Regions from separate parts of the Homo sapiens genome. Here region 2 is linked to region 1. The links come from fine-mapping of genetic effects on gene expression. A gene starts in region 1. The other region holds a variant in brackets. All regions are shown on one strand. Distances are between the middles of the regions.

What was found. PIP is the estimated chance that this variant, and not a neighbour inherited with it, causes the effect.
Region 2: its variant is fine-mapped to the expression of LRGUK in breast (GTEx, PIP 0.90).

What each region holds. Positions count from the first base shown.
Region 1 is chr7:134,125,914-134,128,413 of GRCh38, reverse strand. It overlaps LRGUK (leucine rich repeats and guanylate kinase domain containing), which reads right to left and starts at 1,074. Exons shown (of 20, transcript NM_144648.3): 1 at 750-1,074. The coding sequence starts at 1,046. RefSeq lists enhancers at 792-1,061, 1,172-1,221.
Region 2 is chr7:134,067,517-134,070,274 of GRCh38, reverse strand. It overlaps a transcript of EXOC4 not described here. Among named protein-coding and RNA genes, the nearest start is that of LRGUK, 58 kb to the left of the region's middle. The variant T/C (reference allele first, on the strand shown) is at 1,636.

The DNA of each region.
Region 1 (2,500 bases):
ATAAGAAAGAAGAGGAATTGTGTGGTGGTCAGAAGAGATATTGTAGAAAGGAGGGAATGGCAGTCATGTGAAACGCGAAGCCGCCATCCCAGTCAATATGGGTGGGATGATGGGAACATTCCCCACATCCTAAAATATTCCCACAATGAGCTGGCTGTTCGAACATTATAAGGCTCTTTTCTGGTGTGTGTGCATGTTGCTTGTATAAGGCATATGCCCCCGACAGAAGTAATGTATTCAACTTTTAAGTCACTTAGTCTTTGAAGAAGCACTTTCAAAAGCGGATTTTTTTTTTTTTTTTTTTCCTGGAGGGAGGCTGACGGGACTAGAACTGAGGAAGAGTGTGGAAGTATGTCATAGCCATGGGCAACAGGTGCTGGCAATGTCAGAGATGAACTCTGCCTATTCACAATACTGTCAAAGTATAATTTTGAAAAAGCTAAAGCCATAATTCCCAGACAATTATCTAGACACTCTTACAAAGTGACGCTGTGTTAACTCGACTCATAAGAAATCAAATGTGTTAATGAAAAAAGAAAGGAACTATTTAGAGCTATTTCAGGCAGGGGGTGAGAAAACGGGGTAAAAGACAGGGGAAGAAAAGAGGGGGAAGAGGCGTTCCTGGAGGCGAGAGAGCCTGAGAAGGTGTGGGAAGCTTCGGGCTGGTGGGGGTGCATCGGGGAGCTGCCGCTGAAGTAACAGGGCTGGACGAGGGAGCCAGGGAGTACGGGGTGGGGGGGAAGACACACCTCCAAATTCAGCATTTCGGACTCTGAGGACTCCTCGGATCCCGCCTCGCCCTCGCCCTGGTCCTCATCTCCGTCCGAGTCCAGCTCCTGATAGCGGTGCATGAGCTGCTGGAGCAGGTAGGAGGAGGCTATGTTAGAGCTGCCTTTCGTCTTCTGCCCCATGGGAAAAGACCAGCAAGGCTGACGCTCTTTTTCTGCGCGAAACTGTAACGATCGGGCTCCAGTTCGGGATCTGCCCAAGCCTCTCAGGAGAGAGGCAGCTCTGGTCCTCAGGAGAGCCCTCTCGGAGGTCGCCATCTTGTTTAGCGGGGTTGCCTAGGAGACTGACCCCAGGCAAGGGGAACCGCGGAGGATTCTGGGGCCTGTAGTCTCCTCCGCGCGTACTCGCCTTCTGCAGGCGGGGCAGTGGGCGCTCCACTTGACTTTTCTTTTTCTCAGTCTCTTCTGTTATTTTTCTCTCTTTGGTCTGTTCTGTTCGCTTATCTTTCCTGTTTTCACCTCTTTTCGCTACACCCCCTTTCTTTGTCTCCAGCTGTTTCCTCCCTACCCTGAGACCCCTCTTAGAGCTTTGTCATCCCACGATAGGATCGCAGGTGCGCCACCGTTGCCGCTTCATTCCCAAAGGGCTCTTTCCGCAGAGTCGTACTTTAGAAGTGTCTAATGTCTCTAAAGCAGTCTGTAGGAAAGCTAGTACCACTGAAATTTATGCAAAGCGCGACGCTAGGAGATGAGGGTGCATATAAGTGAAATAGAAGGCATGGTTCCTGTCCTTATGATTTAATTGCAGATAATAAAGAGAAACTACCAGACGACGCCTGAGAGCTGATTTCCAATTAATTTACATTCCCCACCCCCACCCCCCAATGATAAGCCTTGTCCTTGGGGAGAAAAACTGGCAGTGGTCTTACAATCCAAACAGAGAGAGAAAAAACTGCTGTCAAATTGACACTGTATCTGAAAGCGTCTGAAAAGCTATTAGCATCCCATAAATAATTATATTAGTCAAGTGACCTGCATTGGCAATTATTTTAATCTTGTTGCACAGGCTCTCTTTGCAGTTAAAAAAAATACTCTTTCAAGATAACAAAGCACGATTTTATGCTAGTGTGATTTTATGTGACCCAAATCCCATAGCCTTAAGCTCCACAACGTCGACACTCTATAGAAAAGCAGAATGAAAATTATAGTAACTATTATTGCCATAGTGATGACAATAGAGATCCTTGCAGGGAAGTAGCCCTCATCCTTCTGGCCTTACAGGGCCTTTTCTGCACGCTTCAATGACAGCAGTTGCAAATACAAAATGATCCTGTCAATGGCTGTCAGGGGAGAAGGAGAAAAAATCCTTATGGACACCATCCATTGACGATTATCTTTCTCAGTGCTTGAGGGACCGTTAAAACTGACATAAAGCTTTCAGAATTACCTTCCTTCATTATCTTGCTAGTCATAAATGTAAAGGCCACAAGCAAAATATCTCTTTCTGCCAGGCTCATCTTGCTTTTTGCTTATTTCTTTTTCCAATAAGTAGAGATTCCTCCAAGGGAATTTTCCCCACCCTTACCCTCGTAGGGCCTGGCTTCGGCTAAGTGACATAGGGAAGAATCAGGCAGAAAGTGTAAAAATGCAAATCTCGATCGTTTTTCTTTTTTTTTTTTTTTTTTTTGAGACGGAGTCTCGCTCTGTCGCCCAGGCTGGAGTGCAGTGGCGCGATCTCGGCTCACTGCAAGCTCCGCCTCCCGGGTTCACGC
Region 2 (2,758 bases), 58 kb after region 1:
TTTCACATCTGGTCACACGCTTATTAATTATGTACTTCTTATAACAACTGTGCCTAATTAGGACAGGGTTGACACCTTGCCGAGCCTAGTGATTCTTTATGTTTTCTTGTTCGTGGTACCTCATTACCCTCCCTCCAAATTATGTCCAATTTGTTTTACATTCCTGCCACATTAAGACAATCGCTCTCAGGTGTAGGTATTTCAGCACCCACTTTGCTTTCCAAGCAAAATTGTGTTGACCAGGACTCTCCTTGTTTTCACATCCTGCTAGAGGGACAGCCCCTTGGCTGGTCTTCTGATCACATCTGCCCTGAATGAAATGACTCTGGCTTGGAGCTGGCCCCTGGTCTCTCTCATTGGTTACTGTGAAATTTCTGTGCCCTGGTCCTAGGGAGGCAGCCACAGCTACACACCAAAGTAAGAATCCTGAATTCAATGGCCTCAGTCCATTCATAAAGGCTGTGGGGTGGGAATCCATTAGTTCCATCAAGAAATGGTAAAGGGGCCAGGTGTGGTGGCTCATGCCTGTAGTCCCAGCGCTTTGGGAGGCTGAGCCCCAGGGGTTTGAGACCAGCCTGGCCAACATGGTGAAATCCCATCTGTACTAAAAATACAAAAATTATCTGGGCATGGTCTGTAGTTCCAGCTACTTGAGAGGCAGAGGTGTGAGAATCGCTTGAACCCAGGAGGCAGAGGTTGCAGTGAGCTGAAATGGTGCCAATGCACTCCAGCCGGGGCAACAGAGTGAGACCTTGTCTCAAAGAAGAAGAAAGAAGAAAGGAGAAGAAGGAGGAGAAGAGGATGGAGGAGGAAGGAGAAGGAGGAGGAGCAGGAGAAGGAGGAGGAGAAGAGGAGGAAGGAGGAAGGAGAAGTAGGGGGAGAAGAGGCGGAGAAGGAGGAGAAGAGGGAGGAGGAAGAAGGAGAAGGAGGAGGAGAAGGAGGAGAAGGAGGGGGAGAAGGAAGAAAGGAGGAGGAGGAGAATGAGGGGGAGAAGGAGGAGGAGAAGAGGAGGGAGGAAGTAGGAGAATAAGGAGAATAAGGAGAAGAAGAAGGAGAAGAAGAAGAAGAACTGGTAAAGGGTGAACTGCTAGGTGTGCTAGCTAGTGGGGCACAGTGGATCGTGAGAGTCCTAAGCTTCCAGAGAAGCAAAGCTCAGAAGAGAGTGCACAGAGTCAGGCTGAAATTTGAGCTGTCTTCCTAAATGAAAGGGTGGTCACAGAGAATCGAGAGGGGAAATATGGACTCTGGGAAGGGTAGATCAGAGAGGAGTTGTAAGAAGCCAGTGGAAGTATAAGCTTTGTGTCACAAGGGGCTGTTTCTTTTGCCTGTCATTGCCCGACTCCCATATCAACCTGAGCTGTAACAGGCAATTCTATTTGACTGACTGAATGAATGCATTAGTGCTACGAAATTCACGGATATGACTTGACAGTAAGTAGCATTAGGGTTTGGTTGCCAATTCAAGTTGTCTGTATTGGAGTTTTTCCTCCCAAGCTATTTGAAACATAAATAAGGACCGTCGGGCTCAGAAAACATTCAGACAAGAATAAAGTCTTGGAGAGAGGGTGGGGCTTCTTGGAATGGGGTTACTCTGCAGAGGGCAGTAACTGCTGGAAGAGGATCCCACCAGATTAG[T/C]AGTAATGTAATAGAAGTAATAGTACCTAAGGATGGGCAAGATACAGCCCCTATATTAGTCCATTTTCATACTGCTATGAAGAAATACCTGACACTGGGTAATTTATAATGAAAAAGAGGTTTAATGGACTCACAGTTCCACATGGCTGGGGAGGCCTCACAATCATGGCGAAAGGTGAAGGAGGAGCAAAGTCACGTCTTACATGGCAGTAGGCAAGGAGAAATGTGTGGGAGAACTGCCCTTTATAAAACCATTGGATGCTGTGACACTAATTCACTATCATGTGAACAGCACTGGAAAAACTCACCCCCATGATTCATTAACCTCCTACCAGGTCCCTCCCCTGACACGTGGGATTATGGGAGCTGCAATTCAAGATGATATTTGGGTGGGGACACAGCCAAACTGTATCAGCTCCTTTCCTCAAGTAGGTCAGAAACAAGGAGGAAAGGTCATGAAAAGCAGAGGCTTTTCACAAGGTTTCCAGTGTGGTGTCAAGAGTTTCAAGAGGATGGGTTTCAAGAGTATGGGCTGTAGCAGCTCAGGCCTGGTCTTACCACTAAACTTGAGCTGATCTGGACATACTAAAAAATAAACTTGTCTTTCAGAGCCTGGAAGCAGGACTTGTCCTTAACCAGCAAGAGCAACCTGAGGAACCAATCCTTGTCTAATTATTGGGATGAAATCAGTGTGGAGGGGGAAAATGTTCTAGTTGGGCAGTAAGATTTCAAAGCCCTACTGTGAGGTAGGAATAAAAACACCGCCTAGGATGAGAGACCCTGAAAGAACCTGTATTAATAGAGCAGGTAGAAAGAAGTGCTTGTGGGGTAAGGGGCACAATATCACCCAAAGAGTAGTTTCATTTATAAATTGGAAGGTATACTGACAGGCAATAATATATAGCTAAAAGTAACCAAAAATATAGAAGAAACCACCACCAGCACTTCCAAGAACACAATTGCCTGTGTGTGTGTGTGTGTGTGTGTGTGTGTGTGTGTGTATATATATATATAAGAGTTGGGTCCTAGCTGATGAACTACCTCTTTTTCAAGGAATTTATTCCAACGAAGGCTAACTTGAAAGAGATTCTTTCAGTAGTTTCTGGGCCCTTGGGTATGGAAG